3 separate regions of the Homo sapiens genome follow, and regions 2 and 3 are each linked to region 1. The links come from fine-mapping of genetic effects on gene expression. A gene starts in region 1. Each other region holds a variant in brackets. All regions are shown on one strand. Distances are between the middles of the regions.

Evidence for each region. PIP is the estimated chance that this variant, and not a neighbour inherited with it, causes the effect. A credible set is the group of variants that fine-mapping cannot tell apart.
Region 2: its variant is the best candidate, but not a certain one, in a credible set for the expression of POC1B in transverse colon (GTEx, PIP 0.66).
Region 3: its variant is the best candidate, but not a certain one, in a credible set for the expression of POC1B in tibial nerve (GTEx, PIP 0.60).

What each region holds. Positions count from the first base shown.
Region 1 is chr12:89,523,826-89,529,798 of GRCh38, reverse strand. It overlaps POC1B (POC1 centriolar protein B), which reads left to right and starts at 3,752. Exons shown (of 12, transcript NM_172240.3): 1 at 3,752-3,918; 2 at 4,595-4,679. The coding sequence starts at 3,904. It overlaps POC1B-DUSP6 (POC1B-DUSP6 readthrough), which reads left to right and starts at 3,752. Exons shown (of 11, transcript NR_189589.1): 1 at 3,752-3,918; 2 at 4,595-4,679. It overlaps POC1B-GALNT4 (POC1B-GALNT4 readthrough), which reads left to right and starts at 3,537. Exons shown (of 3, transcript NM_001199782.1): 1 at 3,537-3,918; 2 at 4,595-4,679. The coding sequence starts at 3,644. GALNT4 (polypeptide N-acetylgalactosaminyltransferase 4) reads left to right here and starts at 5,003. Exons shown (of 1, transcript NM_003774.5): 1 at 5,003-5,973. The coding sequence starts at 5,250. It also overlaps POC1B-AS1. RefSeq lists silencers at 3,797-4,056, 4,607-4,986 and an enhancer at 5,077-5,286.
Region 2 is chr12:89,692,104-89,698,076 of GRCh38, reverse strand. The region is part of intron 1 of ATP2B1 (ATPase plasma membrane Ca2+ transporting 1); the gene reads left to right. Among named protein-coding and RNA genes, the nearest start is that of ATP2B1, 14 kb to the left of the region's middle. The variant C/T (reference allele first, on the strand shown) is at 3,064.
Region 3 is chr12:89,401,040-89,407,012 of GRCh38, reverse strand. All of the region lies in intron 9 of POC1B-DUSP6 (POC1B-DUSP6 readthrough), which reads left to right. All of the region lies in intron 1 of LOC124902981 (a long non-coding RNA gene), which reads right to left. It also overlaps a transcript of POC1B not described here. Among named protein-coding and RNA genes, the nearest start is that of DUSP6, 52 kb to the right of the region's middle. The variant A/G (reference allele first, on the strand shown) is at 3,090.

The sequences.
Region 1 (5,973 bases):
CTAATTAGAGGTCAGTTTGTCCTAGCTAGTACCCGGCCTCCAGTAAAACCTTGTAGGTTTTTAAATACTGATCCTGCTTGTGGCTCCCACCCACATAAATGATTAGGTTGCAGTCCAGAGAGGTCTAAATAATCATTGTAGCAAGTGGAATTAGGCTTGAGGTTAGAAAAAACTTCCCCAACTTTGACCACATTTCCAATTGTCTACCTCTGAGCTTTTGCTATTTGCAAAGGTGAAGAAAAGCCGAAAAGAACAAAATCAAATACTATGGAAAAGAACAATGGGAAGGGCAGTTTAGAGTAATAAATGAGGACAGTGGAATGAAAATAAAGGAGATATTACTTTCATTTTGTAAAACTTATTATTATAAACCTTGGCAAGAATGCAATGTTTTATACATTTACATAACACTTGCAATCACACAAAAGTCATGACAGTGATTAAGAGAGTGGATTCTGGGCCAGGTGAGGTGGCTCACACCTGTAATCCCAGCACTTTGGGAGGCCGAGACAGGCGGATCACGAGGTTAGGATATTGAGACCATCCTGGCTAACACGGTGAAAACCAGTCTCTATTAAAAAAAAAATACAAAAAAAATTAGCCGGGCTTGGTGGCGGGCGCCTGTAGTCCCAGCTGCTCGGGAGGCTGAGGCAGGGGAATGGCGTGAACCTGGGAGGCGGAGCAGCTTGCAGTGAGCCGAGATCGCGCCACTGCATTCCAGTCTGGGCGACAGAGTGAGACTCCGTCTCAAAAAAAAAAAAAAAAAAGAGAGAGTGGATTCTGGAGGCAGACTGCGAGTGTCTAAAAATCTCAACTCTGCCACTTCCTAGTTAGCAGTGTGCCTTGGGCAAGTAACTTAATGTCTTTGCATATCAATTTACTCATCTATAAAACGGAAATGGTAATAATAGCACATCTCTAATAAGATCGTTATGATCACTAAATGTCAAAATTTGTAAGGTACTTAGAAAAGTCCTGGCATGTAGTGAAAACATAGGTAGGTATATTAGTCCGTTCTCACATTGCTATGAAGAACTACCTGCGACTGGGTAATTTACAAAAAAAGCGGGTTTAATTGGCTCATGGTTCTGCAGGCTGTACAGGAAGTATGGCTGGGGAGGCCACAGGAAACTTACAAACATGGTGGAAGGCAAAGGGGAAGAGAGCATGGCTGCTCCATGGCTGGAGCAGGAGGAAGAGAGCAAAGGGGGAAGTGCTACACACTTTTAAACAACCAGATCTCGTGATAACTCACTCAGAACAGCAAGGGAGAAATCCACCCCCATGATCCAATCACCTCCCACCAGCCCCCTCCTCCAACACTGGGGATTACAATTCTACATGACAGTTGGGTGGGGACACAAATCCAAACCATATCAGTAGGTGACAAATTTTTTAAGATCAACTTTAGGTAATAGGATTAATATGTAGTTTCCCTCCCATCTTTTAAATTTAAAACATGTGTTTCTTGATAATTGAGAAAAAAAGTAAAAGCTAAACTTTTACTAAAACACTTAAATAAAAATCTATATTTTTTCTTCTTGTGAGCTAGTTTCTAAATCTCCAACTTCTTCCCTTTTCTGCTTCTCCTGTGCCCAATATTAGACGTAACATACCTATGAGTAATCCTGAGGTCCTGATTACTCTTCAGCTTCTGGCATTATTATTTTATTATTGGGGTGAAATACCTGTAATGAAATTTACCATTTTACCCATTTTTTAGGTGTACAATTCACTGGCATTAAGTACATTCACAATGTTGTGCAAACATCACCACTATCTATTTCCAGAACTTCATCATCCCAAACAGAAACTCTGCACCCATTAAACAGTAACTCCCCAGTCTCCCTTACCCCCAGCCCTAGTAACCTCTATTCTACTTTCTGTCCTTATGAATTCACCTATTCTAGGTACCTCATATGAATGGAATCATACAATATATGCTCATTTGTGTTTGGCTTATTCACTTAGCAAAATGTTTTCAAGGTTCATCCATGTTATAGCTTGTATCACAATTTCATTTCTTTTTATGGCAGGATAATATTTCCTTATATGTATATATCACATACATTTTGTTTATCCATTCATCTGTTGGATACTAGGATTGTATCCACTTTTTGGCTATTGTAAATAATGCTTGCTTTGAACACTGGCATCTGTTGGAGTCTCTGCTTTCAATACTTATGGGATATACCTAGCAGTGAAATTGCTGGATTATAAGGTAATTGTATGTTTAACTTTTTAGGAACTGACAAACTTTTTCACAGAGCTACATCATTTTACATTCCCACCAGTATCCAGCATTAGTTTTAAACATGGCAGGCTTTTAAAATAAATCAAGCCTAAACTGGTAATATGTAGCAAAACTAAGAGTCCTGCAACAGTTTGCTGACAAGTTGCTGATATCAACACTCTTAACATATCATCTCCTAGACTAATGCAGTGTTTCTCAACATAGACAGCTGAGACTCCCATAGTAATCATCTATGGAGCTTGTTACATCAGAAGGGCCCTGGATCCCACCTTGTATATGTTGATTCAGCATCTCTGGAAATGGAGCCCCCAAATCAACATTACAAATGCTAAAGCATGAGACTCACCAACCCTAGATTGCTGAGTTCTTGAAGGTAGGGGAAATATCTTAGTCATCATTGTGTCCCTCAAGGCCAAACATACAACAGATATTTAACAAGTGTATACTTAAATTAACTAATACTGTAATCTAAAGCCTACCTGTTTAGTTGTTAAGTACCATATTCAATAAAATTAAACTCAATCACTAGACAACTAGGGAATCTGTAATTAAGGTGTGTAGCATACCTTTCATTTGCATAAAACACATGTCTTACCAGCTGTGTTCTATCATGCCCTTTGATGTTGCTAAGGATCTTTACACTATATGTAATTTTCAGCTCAGAACATCACGCTTTGAGGCAGGGTTAAAAAAAAAAAAAGGATATGGACTTGGAATTAGAAGAACTGTCTCTGTGTGACCTCTAAGACCAATATCTAGGAATCAAGTTTATAACTTGGAAACATTGAAAACATTTTGTAATTCTACCAACTTCATTGTTTGGCTGAAGCACAAATGATACTATGTGTAACAAAGCCTGCTGTAGAAACGTGGTCTCACAAAAAACAAACAAAAAAAACCATGTTTCCAAGTCTTCCTAAAGACTTTAAGTATCCAGCTGTGTAAGTTTAGTGCTCTAAGGTATACGCAAATAAGCAGATGAGAATGGAAACATATCGCAGAAAATTATTAAGTGCATGCACAACATTTATTCATTCATTCACTCATTCATTCATCACGCACATCCAGCAACTATATCAATATCCTGCAGGGCACTGTGTGGAAAACAGTGGTTAAATAAATTCAAATCTGCCCTCAGGGGATTTAGTTCCTTTTAGTATATTAATAACTAGCAAGCTGCCCCTCTTCATGTCAAAGCTTTACGTCAACAAAATAAGCGGTAGGGGATCACCTTAAACGTCACGGGTGCTGTCTCTTTAAAACGTAATAGAACTCTGATCGCATCGATCACAGGCTCACAACGCCCTTCCATTCATCGCTCTTATTCCAGTCCTGGTTACTACCCCACTTCCTGACATCAAACCAGGGAGAACGCGAGTGTTAGTTAACATGGCTTGGTGTGTGGCCACAGCTGACCCGGCGCATACCTCCCGTCCTCTCTTTACAGGGCTGGCGGTGTCTCGGGGCTCGGCTGGCCATGCCTGGAGCGCGGGGTTTGACTGGGCCGCCGTTGTTGTAGTGACCGGGAGGCGCTGCCGCTCTGGGCAGACGGTTCCGGGAGCCGCACGGTCCCCTCTCCTTCCCCATCCTCTCCCCTCCCCTCTCCGGGTTCCCCCACCCACAGGAGCCTTGGGCCGACCACTCCCCCGATGGCCTCAGCCACGGTAAGGACGGGTTGGAGGTGGGGGGGGTCCCTCCCTGGAGCCTGTCCCGCGGGCTGCGGGGCCAGGTCCGGGCCGAAGCCGCACCTGGAGGGAGATGGAGGCAGGTGTCCGTAGCCGGGTCCTGAGCCCCTCGTCCCGGGGCGTCCGTATCTCACTCTCTGCCATCGGGGCGGACGGAGTGCGGAACCCAGACCCGGCTCCCGGACGCTCTTCCCCGAGTTCCGGAGCTCCGGACTGAGCTGGGCGGCCCCACGGCCCCCAGAATTCTCGGAGGGTTTCCGTGGAGCGCCTGCGTCAGAATCACCTAGGAAGTATTAAAAAAAAAAAAAGTACCAAAGCCGAGGCGCATCCTCGCACCTGCCTGCCTTGGGCCAGCGGGCGGGGCCCGGGAACGTGCATTTCAAAGGGGCCGCGGTTCCTGCGATGCGCTGGACTCTGGGAAGCGCGAACAGAGCGTTTTGCGGGCTCTGCGGGGAGAGCTGGCGCCGGCGTCTCCCTGTAGCAGGACTGGGCGCCGCGCCCGTGGGTGGGCTGCTGCCCGGCCCCGCCGCCCAGCCAAGCCGCCGCCTGGGTGGCCATTCCCAAGCCGGACTCCGGGGAAGTGGCAGCGTGGATCCCAGCCGCCAGAATTCGAGGTCTGCGGCGGCTTTCAAAACTTGACAACTTTCCTTTCCAGGAGGACCCCGTTCTGGAGCGTTATTTCAAAGGCCACAAAGCTGCGATCACCTCCTTGGACCTCAGCCCCAACGGCAAGCAACTTGGTAAGTCTTATTCTTGTTTTGCTTTTGTAATGAGACTAAACTCCATGGGCCGGAAACCTTTCCTCCTGTCCGGGCAGGGTCCCTAGGAGAACGGCTAAGGGCCTGTATGAGGGTTGAGAGCACCCGGAGACGAGGGCCCAGCGCGGCGGGGCGCAGCTAGGGCCCCCTCTGCCATCCCGGCCCCCAGCCCCCGGCCCGGCCAAGAGCCTCCTATCCAGCGGTCTGGGCCTGGCGGACGACTTTCGCAAACTAACCACCAGGAGGAGTGAGTGGGAAGGGGAGGGGTTTCTCCTCGGCCCGGGGAGGGTGGGGTGTTGGCTGGAGAGTTTGTGAAAAGTTGTGAGCCGAGCAGGAGGAAGTAGGGAGAGAGGAGTTGGGCTGTGCCGGAGGCCGAGGACCGAGAGGGCTCAGGTGACCCCTGGAAAGCCTGGGTGGCTGGAAAGGAGCCTAGCGCCTGCATGAAAGGAAGAACCTGCTGGGAAGTACCTGAGCTCGAGCTGTGGGTTCCGCCGCCCTTCCCCTGCGTGGTGGCTTGGTGGCCGCGTCTGCGCCTCAGCCCTGAGAATCCGGATGGCGGTGAGGTGGACTTGGGCAGGCAAGAGCTGCCTGCTGCTGGCGTTTTTAACAGTGGCCTATATCTTCGTGGAGCTCTTGGTCTCTACTTTTCATGCCTCCGCAGGAGCCGGCCGTGCCAGGGAGCTGGGGTCAAGAAGGCTCTCAGACCTCCAGAAAAATACGGAGGATTTGTCTCGACCGCTTTATAAGAAGCCCCCTGCAGATTCCCGTGCACTTGGGGAGTGGGGGAAAGCCAGCAAACTCCAGCTCAACGAGGATGAACTGAAGCAGCAAGAAGAACTCATTGAGAGATACGCCATCAATATTTACCTCAGTGACAGGATTTCCCTGCATCGACACATAGAGGATAAAAGAATGTATGAGTGTAAGTCCCAGAAGTTCAACTATAGGACACTTCCTACCACCTCTGTTATCATTGCTTTCTATAACGAAGCCTGGTCGACTTTGCTCCGTACCATTCACAGTGTTTTAGAAACTTCTCCTGCAGTTCTTTTGAAAGAGATCATCTTGGTGGATGACTTGAGTGACAGAGTTTATTTGAAGACACAACTTGAAACTTACATCAGCAATCTTGATAGAGTACGCTTGATTAGGACCAATAAGCGAGAGGGGCTGGTTAGGGCCCGTCTGATTGGGGCCACTTTCGCCACTGGGGACGTCCTCACTTTCCTGGATTGTCACTGTGAGTGTAATTCCGGTTGGCTGGAACCGCTTTTGG
Region 2 (5,973 bases), 170 kb before region 1:
CAAAATGGTGAAACCCCGTCTTTACTAAAAATACAAAAATTAGCCGGGCGTAGTGGCATGGGCCTGTAATCCCCACTACTAGAGGCTGAGGCAGGAGAATTGTTTGAGCCCAGGAGGCGGAGGTAGTGAGCTGAGATCGTGCCACTGCACTCCAGCCTGGACAACAGAGCGAGACTCCATCTCGGCAGGTGGGGGAAAGATATATATGAAGCCTGTAACTGAAAAAGCAAGCGGTAGCTTTGTAAGCATTATTTGTGGAGATGAAGGATTTGAGGGTACTTTTCCTAGTTGCTTCAGAGTAGAAAATGGGATGGGGGACTAAGAGGACTGCTGATATTTGAAAAAACGGTGGGGGTGGGGAGGAACTAAGAGGACTGCTAATATTTAAAAAAAAAAAAAAAAAAAAGCCTTTTGGATTTGTTTTCCTAAACAGACTTTATGCATGTATAAGTTTGTCAAAACTGAAAATGAATACATGTATGAAATAAGTTTAAATGTGTGGATAACCCAGATATGTCATCTGTCATTCATCTCCTGTGTCTTTGTACAGTCTTGTGCAATTTAGATACACAACTCAATTTTACTTTGGGTAAAATAATCCATTTTTACAAAAGCAGAAGTGAGCAATGTGGACATGAAGGAACATTTCTTTAGTGAAGACAGTCTATGGATAACTCAAGAGTCCCCTTCCTTAATTTCTCCCTCCAGTCATCCTCTACTTTGCAAATCCAGATTCCTCATTTCTTTATTATATAGAACAATTGATTGCCTTATTTGGTTTCTTGAGTCTTCCCCTGAGATTCTGACCCGCCATACCCCAAGCTCATAAAGACATATAAAGACATTTTTTCCAAATAATTACATATAGCCCACTGCCTGATAAGAGTCTGGTGTATGATTTCTGTTTCTTCATCTGGATAAGGCCAAATTCCATTCCACTCATTAAATTTCTGTCTTCCTATTAAGGAACTTGATATTTGAATTACTTCTTGCTTTTTTTTTTTTTTTTTTTGAAGGAAGTAGAATCTCGGGAAAACAGCAGTCATTTCTTAAGAGATGTTAGAATTTAGAGGGTGAAAAAAAAAACAAAACTAATGTTCTTTTGTTAACATGCCATGAAAAACAGACTAGCTCCAAAACACACTAGTTACTTTGACTAAAGGGAATGTATGATTATTGAATAAAATGAACACCTGTGTAGCTGCCTTCTACCTGCTGGTACTGTTCAAAGCAATTTACACATATTAACCCATTTAAATGAGTGGGTTCTGTGTAATATATGGATGAGATATTCTCTATAGAAAGAGATGAAAAGGGCTATGAATAGTTTTAAAGGGCTATGAATACCCTAAAATACAGTGACTTACATAACCTTTTTACCAGTTAGAAATGTAACACTATATAATGTTTGGAAAATAGGACAATGTAAAGTGAAACAAATCACTCATAATCCTCCGTCTGAGAAATAGCTAGTTTTAACACTTTAATGGTTTTTATCTTTTGAAAAACTTACCTATTAACATCCTTCAGATAATGTAGGTATAATTATGTGCTTTTTAGAAACTTTGTATTATTTTCTCATGTCATTAAATTTTTTCATTAACAACATTTTAATAATGTTGTATCCTATGGCTAGTCCCTTGTTATTGGATGTTTTGATTTTAATTCTTTTCTGTTAAATAATCTTCCAGTGAGCATCTTTATTTGCATATGTTTGTCTTCATTTATGATTGTTTCTCTGTATTTACTGTATTTAAAGGATTTTGGTAGTTTGTGGTCTTATGACTAAAATTTTCTTCCAGTCTCCTTTCTCTGAGGCTGGTCAGATTTTGGGGAGTCTGTCTTTTCTTGCTGTGTCTATAGTATGTCCCACTCATTTCCAGGTCTCTGCTTTACTTTTCCAAATTTCCATAGCACTTTTAAGAATTCATATTTTGTTGTTCACATGTTTGACACTTCCGTGACATGTTCAGTTTGGGAGCAGGAACTGTGCATCTTTCTGTCACTCACCCTTGGCACAATGCCCTGTTTATACCTGTGAGGTTGTTAATGATTCTTGAATGAGCCTCTTGTGTCTGGTCTTGAGCTTGAATCCACTGACACTGGACTTCTGCATCTTATAGAAACTGTAGTGTGCTTGGGGTGAGAATTTATCACAGATACTGTTTCTTTTAAATTTGAGCTGAATGATATGTCAGGTAAATGACACAAAGATTGGAAATATTTTCTTATAACTATGTTATATAAATTTAATTTTTTGTGAAACAAGAATTTTACTATCCCTGCTTCTAAAGAGCAGGATAGACTTTACTAAATAGAATAGAATACTAAGAAGCAGCCAATGGAAATGGGTATTACTATTTAAAAATGCCAGTGAGTAGATGTTTTTGTAAAATGTTGCTTAATAGATTAATGTATCTATCTTTTTTTTTAATAGAGGAGAAAACTTCAGAAGTTTGACATCTAAACTTAAATACAACTACAGCTAAAGAGTTAGTCCAAAAAAGTTAAGTTTCAGTATTGTAAACGAGGTAAAACTAGGGAAATTTAAAGGTGTCTTGGCAGGCTCTTTCTGTGACATCATATATGAATTTTTTTCTTTTTTTTAATTCTCATTTCAAGTAGAAAATTTCAGATTTGAGATAAATATTTTCTTTTAAAAAATATTTATATGATTGCTAGGGTAGACCGTAACAACTGTGACCTGCTGAGAGGAGAGACTGTTATGTAGAGCTTTAAGTCAGCCTTGCTCAGTGTGTCTGGTGTTCCTTCTTGGTTTCCTTTTTTGTGCAGTGATTCATCAGGTGCTGTATGCTTCCAGAACCAGTGTAAGTGTGTGCACATGTCCCATTCCTGGTCTGTGATCTCTTCTATAATGAATAGGGGTATATTGTTTCCAGCTATTCTTATACAAGTAAAGAAGAAAAGCGTTCTAGAATCTGCTGTCAAACCTTCAGACTTCAGTAGTTTTGCTACCATTGTATCCTATTCTTATAATTCTTTTCTTTTTTTTTTTTTGAAACAGCATCTTGCTCTTGTCGCCCAGGCTGGAGTGCAATGGCA[C/T]GATCATGGCTCACTGCAGACTCGATCTCTCTGGGCTTAGGTGATCCTCCCACCTTAGCCTCCCGGGTAGCTGGGACTATAGGCATGTGCCACCATGCTCGGCTAATTTTTGTACTTTTTGTAGAGATAGGGTTTCGCCATGTTGCCCAGGCTGGTCTCAAACTCCTGGGCTCAAGCAATTCCCCTTCCTCGGCCTCACAAAGTGCTGGGATTACAGGCGTGAGCCACTGCGCCTGGCCAGTTCTTAGAATTCTTGATGGTGATCTCTGGCCTTCTGTCACAATTACATTTGGAGGGTTTTCTAAGTTGTGCTGAGCTCTGTTTGTACTTCTGCACACAGCCTAGGTAGCAAGCCAGGCTATCAGTTTTTCATAATGTTGGACTTGCTCCTCCTGTCTCCCTTCCTGAAGTATACCTGTGGCCCTAGATTTAAATTAAATGTTTCCACAAGTGGGAACTGTATTGGTTGAAGGCCTTATTTCCGAGTGGAGGGAAAGCTCTTTTGAGCAGATTCTTTGGCCATGCCCCTTCAATGTATTTGATACCAGGTAACCCCCCCATAAGCAGATACCCTAAGGAGTTGAAAGGAGGAAACTTTGAGTGGTTTGGGGGATGTTGAGAGATTATAGTTTAATCTAGATCTGCACATGCACAGAAGGAGTTTGAGGTTGTCATTAAAAGTCATAGATTATAGTGGCATTGGGGATTTTTTAAAATTAAGGTGACAGCTGTAAGTGGGATATGAGAGGGAGAGAGAATAGGACAGATTATGTAGTTGAATATAACTTTTTTATATCTAGTTAGTAGATACACATCTTTCTCTATATATATGTATTTGAACATTCAGTGCAAGTGTTTCTTTTGGCTACTCAAGTAATAATTACTTAGAATAGTTATGGGTATAAAAGGACGAAATGTATCAAATTAATTGTACCATGACATTCCTCTAATTTTGAGGTCAGTGGAAACCAGTCTTCTTGTCCTGGAATGTAACTTAGTGGACTAATCGCTATCTGGAATGCTACTGGAATGGGGAGGAATCAAAGAGAAAGCAGAAATAGAAGAAGAATGGAGAGAGGTGTAGGATAATTTTTCTCCCAGCCTAAGGCTATTATTTATCCAGTTTCCTGAACCATGTAAAACAAAGTAGAGAACCAGGAAATTGGCAGAAAAGCCCTCTAAGCCGCCAGAAGTTCATGAATCAAGACTCTCAGCACCTTACTCCACTTTAGGTGTTTACTTGCTGTATTTATTCATATTTTAAATACATTTTGATAACTGGTTTGCCAGCACACTGCAGATGAAAGAGAGCAAATTTCAGAAACTAGAAAGACTGTTTAGAATCAAGCACAAGTATCATAGGAACTAATTGAAAATTTACATTTTAGTGATGGAAAAGGAAGGTTTTTAAAGTAAAAAATAAGAATTCACAAAACTTAATAGGCATGGACAATTTGGTTAAAAAGCAACGGCTGTGTGCTGCTCTTCCTATCTGGAATGTCCTCATCCAAACTAGTCATTTTTTTAGGACTCATTATGAAGCTCCTTCATGAAGTTCTTCTGTCCTGTCCAGAAAGTTAGGTGCTTATCATTTAGATTATTCATTAAGTTAGTACTTAATAAATGAATGTGTCCAGTTAAACTCTGAGCCTTCTATACTGCTCCATTCCTCCTGTCACAATGGTTACTTCGTATCATAGCAGGAGTTCTTCCTGTGTTAAAGACATGCCCAACCTTTTCATTGTTTATGCCTTTGTAAATCATACTCCCCTTGCCTAAATATTACAAAATAGGACTCTTCATTCAAGACTCACTTTAAAAGTCAGTTCTTTGATAAGGCATTGCTGCAGCTTCCCTAGGCACAGTCATTTCCTTGTCTGTGTTGCCATCACTTCATATTCAGTATTTACTTAATTCTGAAATAACAGTTAGAAAATAAATTATTGGCTTAATACTAGTTGTAGGGAGTAAAATGAAAAATTAAGTATACATTCAGAAATACTTTACTGACAGAAGCATACAGTACATCCTCAGTGTGGCCAATAGGTTCTTGGACACTGCAACATTAAGTGAAATGATGTGTAACGAAACCAATTTTACCATAGACTAGTCGATATAAACAAGAGTTAAGTTCTTATGGCATATTTCTGGTCACAAAAACATTACCAAATATCTGATATTAAACATTGAAATAAGTAATTCCATACATACATTTAAGAAAGATTAATAAGACAACCCAATTTTTGGTGAATCAGTGAGTGACAGTGGTCATGGTAGGTAGTAGGTTAAATCAAAGAATAAATGTTTGCTAAGTGAAAATTGTAAGGAGCACCTCCTACCACACGAAGTTCAAAAACAATCATAAAAACAGCAAGCTTGCAGATTGCTCTCATACCACATCATTTCTTATAGAGCATTTGTATGATTATTGTATACTTTAGTAATTTTTATTTGACAATAATTTGTAATTATTAATTCATTTCTCTGATCTGCTGATTCCAGTTCAGGGTCATGAGTGGCCAGAGCCTCTCCCTGAAGCACATCTTTAGTATGTGGGAGAAAACCAGAATACCTGGAGAAAACCCATGCAGATATAGGGAGAAAGTGAAGATTCCACACAGTCGTCCCAGCCTGGAATTGATTTTGTTTTTTCTCATCAATGTCGTAATGAAACCATGTTAAATGAAATATTATTCAAGGATCTGCTGTCGTCTAGGCATAGTTCACTTTCTTCAATATAGAAAAATTTGAGTCTTAGCCTGAGTTTTAAGTCAACTAAATCATTTTGGCCATTGATTAAGAATAACATCATGGTAGCATGTTGCTTTTTTTTTTAACCTATGTTCTATGATCTTAACCTCTTTAGCAGCTTTGTCATTGACCTGTAACTTTGAAACTTAAAGTGTATAG
Region 3 (5,973 bases), 120 kb after region 1:
TCACGCCCGGCTAATTTTTGTATTTTTTAGTAGAGACGGGGGTTTCGGCATGTTGGCCAGGCTGGTCTTGAACTCCTGACCGCAGGTGATCCTATCGTCTCCACCTCCCAAAGTGCTGGGATTACAGGTGTGAGCCACTGTGCCCGGCCTAGATTTCTGGTTTCTGTTGAAAAATTGGAAGACCTGGTATTATCTTATATATCACATATTATATATTATATTATTACGTATCGGGCATGTAGTTTCCCATGGCGATAACCTCCAGTTTTACCTTTTCTGCTTGTCTTCATGGCCCTAACCTGCTTTGTTGAACCAGTATCTGAACAGTGTGACTTGTGTGTCTCAAAGGCACAGCTCTCATGCTCTTGCAGACCCGGGAATAGGAGACCTAAGAAAACATACTTATTTATTTTGAGGAAATGGAGATACAGTGATGGATTCGTGCCAGAACGCAGACAACAAGCACCATCTCTTTATTCTCAAGCCAGTCCTCTTGCCACTGCTCTATGCTGCCTCCTTTAGTTTAAGTTTTATTTCAAAATGGAAAACATCTTTCCAAAACCATAGAGCCTTAAGTTAATCATATATCAAGTGGAAAAGAAGAAAGAAAAGATCACACTCTATGTGCAATATGATTAGAACAGTATTCAAATGGTGTATCGAGAAGTCTTTGAATAGCAGCATTAGGGAATGTTTTCCTTCTATTTTCCAAACTTTCTCTAAAAAGTATGTATTAACTTTTGTAATAAAATGAAACTCTATTTTTAAAGATTCTAAACACACTGAAACAGACACTTTGCCTAGTCATGACAATCCTATTTCCCTTTGCCAGACACTCACTTCCCTGCCTCCTTTGCAACTCAGCTTGGCCATGTGTCTCTGTCTTCTCTAATGAGATGTGGGGGGAAGTCTGCTGGTGCCTCAGGATTTCCAGGACTTTCAGTCTTGAACATAGTTATACAAAAATGCCAAGCAGAATTCTAACCTCCAGTGAAGAAAACAACAACCAAAAAAAAAAAAAAAACACTCAAAACTTGCACTTTTTTTTTTTTAAGGGATAGGATCTCACTCTTTCACCCAGGTGGGAGTGCAGTGGCACAGTCATATTTCACTACACCCTCAAATTCTTGGGCTCAGTCAAGGATTCCTCCCATCTCAGCCTCCCAAGTATCTGGGACTACTGATGCGTGACACCACACCTGGCTAATTTTAAACATTTTTGTAGAGACAGGGTCTCACCATGCTGCCCATGCTGGTCTCAAACTCCTGGACTCAAGCCATCCTCCCATCTCGACCTCCCATAGTGCAGGATTACAGGTGTGAGCCACCGCCCCGGCCCTGCACTCATTTTTAGATACCTCATTAAATAATATCCTTATGGCTTAAACAACTATTTTTTTTTATTACTTGCAGCCAAAAACTAGCTACACAAAAGAATATTTACTTTTTTTCAGATATTAAATTTAAATGTATTATCTGGAGTTTAGGATTACAGGCATACGCCACCATGCCCGGCTAATTTTTGTATTTTTAGTAGAGACAGATTTTCACCACGTTGGCCAGGCTGGTCTTGAACTCCTGGCCTCAGGTGATCCACCCACCTCTGCCTCCCAAAGTACTGGGATTACAGGCATGAGCCACCACACCTGGCCAGGATTTTATTGTACTTCTTTTCCCACTACTACCTGAGTAACTTGAAATGAGAGCCCATATTTGTTATTATCTCATCCAATGAAGAAGGCTAGTCAGGAGATCAATAGGGGACTATATCATATTTTCATATTTCCTTCAAGAGAATTTCCTTCCATCAACCATGTTAGTTCATTTTTTTTAACCATGTTAGTTCATTTTTTACAAGTTTGGTTCTGACAATCCTTGCGTTCCATGGGGTAGATCAGGTAGAAAAATGTTTGATCATTCAAAACATGGAAAGGTATCCATTTGATGGTAAACATTTTATGTTTGTTATCATAAAGGTGTTCTACATATGCTGGAGGAGGCAGAGCACAGTGCTCACCATGGGTTGCCACTGATCTACTTCATTGGTGATGCCGAATACTAGGGGTGAGGAGGTAGGAGTCAGAAACTTAGAGGGGGCGGTGGGAGAGAGTAGGAGGTAGACAAGTTGAAGAAGTGGTTTGAAAGTTTGGAGATCTTTACCTGGAGAAGAGAACACTTAGAGAAGGTAAGAACTATTAGTTAGTTTCTTGTGGGTTCCTGGATTAGGGACTCATCTGGTTTATTTTAGGTAATTCAGGAATTTTTAGAAGGATATATGTGAAAATACAGGCAAGACTCTCGATTGTGGCAACCCAGGAAGAGCTGACAGTCAAGTTAGTTGGAAGGAAGAGTCATGTTGTAGCTGGGTCTAACTGAGCCTAGAGCTGAGATCTAGTGCAGGAAATCATTCAAAATTATTGATAGAACCTATTGAAATTATAGGTAAGCTGGTTATTATACTGTACCTCCAGCCACAGGACTCCTATTCTAGTGCTCCATCATTAACATTAACATGACTTGGCTATTTTTCATTTTGTGTCTCTGCTTTGTTAATGTTACTGTCTAATTGACCTTTTCCCATGTTTCCAGACAAAAGTGCTGAGAGAAAGAATCTCATTGATGAACTGTCCTTAGTAAGACAAACACTTGTGCTGGGTTTCCTCATAGGTCACACATGAGCCCATAAATGGACCAGGATGGTGGAAACACACAGAACATGGCCACTTAGGTATAAGGAAGTAAGTTGCATCCCTCAGCTTGGAATGGTGGACACAGCAGACCCACCTACTCAGCCATCAGAAGCCTCTGTAGGAAACAGCTGCTGACCTAGGTATTTGAAAGGCTGCCATATTGAAACTCTGGACTTTTTTTTTTTTTTTTAAGATGGAGTTTCATTCTTGTTGTCCAGGTTGGAATACAATGGCGCGATCTCAGCTTATCGCAACCTCCACCTCCCAAGTTCAAGCAATTCTTCTACCTCAGCCTCCCGAGTAGCTGGGATTACAGGCATGCGCCACCACGCCTGGCTAATTTTGTATTTTTAGTAGAGACAGGGTTTCCCCATGTTGGTCAGGCAGGTCTCGAACTGC[A/G]GACCTCAGGTGATCCTCCCGCCTGGGCCTCCCAAAGTGCTGGGATTAGAGGTGTGGGCCACTGCGCCCGGCCAACATTTTTTATTTTACTCCAGAAGGCAAAGGGAGGATAGAGACAACTAATGAAGACTTTCAAACAATGAGTACTATCTGAAAGCAAAACGGGCCTCCTTTAGAGATAGAGTGTAGCTCGTTCCTGGAAATGTTTTAAGGGATGATAGATGGCTTCATGGCCGGGAAATGGTAGCTTAGAATGGAGATTAGAACATTTAGATCATCTGCTGATGATTTACATCTGCCAAAATGGGACATGTAGAAGTAATTCTAGGACCAGAGGAGTCTCAAAAGTCTAAGATGGCCTTGAGGAATTTTGAGCCTCAAAAAACTCTCAGAAATATCAGGCTCTGACTCTTCTCTGAGGCAGATATTTAACCAGAGGTAGGCTTTAAGGGGTCACTCATACCACAAAGTGACCATAAAAAATTTCAAACTCAGTTTACCTTGAGGGTTGATTTCAGAGAGTACCAAGCACTGGACGTTGAAGAGATTTCTCAGCTCTCATCACAGTTTCAAATTGAGGCATTGAAAACCTCAAGTTAAAAATGTACGTGTGTCAGGGCTGGGCGTGGTGGCTCACGCCTATAATCCCATCACTTTGGGAGGCCAAGGCGAGCAGACACTTGAAGTCAGGAGTTAGAACCCAGCCTGGCCAACATGGTGAAACCCTATCTCTACTAAAAATACAAAAATTAGCTGGGTGTGGTGGCGGGCGTCTGTAATGCCAGCTACTTGGGAGGCTGAGGCAGGAGGATTGCTTGAACCTGGGAGGTGGAGGTTGCAGTGAGCCGAGATGGAGACACTGCATTCCAGCCTGGGTGACAGAGTAAGACTCCATCTCAAAAAAAAAAAAATGTGTTTGTGTCGGCCAGGTGAAGATGCCTCACGCCTATAATCCCAGCACTGTGCGAGGCAGAGGCAGAAGTTCCAGACCAGCCTGGCCAACATGGTGAAACATTTTTAGTCTCTACTAAAAATACAAAAATTAGCCAGGTATTTGGGAGGAGGCTGAGGCTTGAGAATTGCTTGAACCTGGGAGGCGAAGGTTGCAGTGAGCCAAGATTGTGCCACTGTGCTCTAGCCTGGGTGAAAGAGCGAGACCTTGTCTCAAAAAAAAGAAAGTATGTATGTCCATAGAATACTATGCAACCATAAAAAAGAATGAGATCACGTCTTTTGCTGGAACATGGATGAAACTGGAGGCCATTATTCTCAGCAAACTAATGCAGGAACAGAAAACCAAATACCGCATGTTCTGACTTGTAAGTTGGAGCTAAATGATAAGAACTTATGAACACAAAGAAGGAAACAACCAACACTGGGGTCTACTAGAGAGTGGAGGGTGGGAGGAGGGAGAGGAGCAGAAAAGATAACTATTGGGTACTGGGCTTAATACCTGGGTAACAAAATCTGTCCAACAACCCCCCGTACATAGGTTTACCTATGTAACAAACATTCACATGTACCCCTGAACCTAAAAAAAAATTTTTAAAGGGGTGTGTGTGTGTGTGTGTGTGTGTGTGTGTGTATTTGTGATAACACATCTTGTCATATAGGAATTAATTAAATGAATTAGGCAGTAATCTAATCACAGGGCTGAAGACTTCAAGAAGGACAATAGCAGAATAGCTGTGGGGAATAACTCATTACACTAACTTTCAGTAAGTTTGGAATCTTTTCCTCTGGGGCAATGTTTTAAGGGACGGGAAGGAAGGGAGAAACAAAAAAGAGAAGGAAGAAGAGAGATAACACTTAACTGGACACCTGCTGTGGAACAGGCACCGGCCACTTCCAAGGCTTCCTACAGTGAGCAGCTCTGAGCACTAGAATCTCTCATCTCCTTGGGGTGATAAATGAATGATGGCCCACTTTCCACACTAGTGGTAGTCACATGAAAGCACTGTACTTTGACATTAACTATTTCTCAGGAAAAAAGAGAAAGTTTGACTCGTATTGTTCGTTGTTTGCATTAGGTCAACCTAATGCTCCAACATTAACCTAGAACTGTAGTTTTCTTGATTACAGCATGGCTGACCCATGCAAAGTTGCTTACAAATACTTGAATTCACTAATGCTATTTGCAAATTACTGCAAGTGTCATAATGACACATTGTTCAGTTCTTAGGACTTTGTGAGGACCCATCTTGAGAAGGATTTGACTTCAAAAGATTGAGATTAAGGCTTAAAGAAAATAACCTTTGGAATTCAACCTCCAGTGAGGGAACTGGCAAGCAATCTTTGTTCAATATTTTTTTCAGAAGTGTCCTGAATGTAGGTGAACAGTAACCAGTGTGCTCCAGAGCCAGGCTCACAGGAAATCTGGGTGAGTCTAAAGAAGAAGAAAAAGAAAAATCTAATCGTGGGAAAGCATGGGAATAAAAAAAAAAATGAAAAAGGCAACTCAATACACTGTTTTTTTTTTCCTTTTTTTTTTTTTTTTTTTGAGATGGAGCCTTGTTCTGTCACCCAGGCTGGAGTGCAGTGGCATGATCTCGGCTCACTGCAACGTCTGCCTCCCGGATTCAAGCAGTTGTCCTACCTCAGCCTCCAGAGTAGCTGGGACTACAGGTGCGTGCCACCACGCCCAGCTATTTTTTGTGTTTTTAGTAGAGATGGGGTTTCACCGTTAGCCAGATGATCTCGATCTCCTGACCTCGTGATCCGCCCACCTCGGCCTCCCAAAGTGTTGGGATTACAGGCGTGAGCCACCTCGCCCTGCCAATACACTGGTATTCTTATCATTTCCTCAGTGCCCTGTCTTGTGCCTCTGGCCCTGCCCTGCTTATTCCACCTCAGGAAAGGACTATACTCAGAGGGCGCCTTCCTT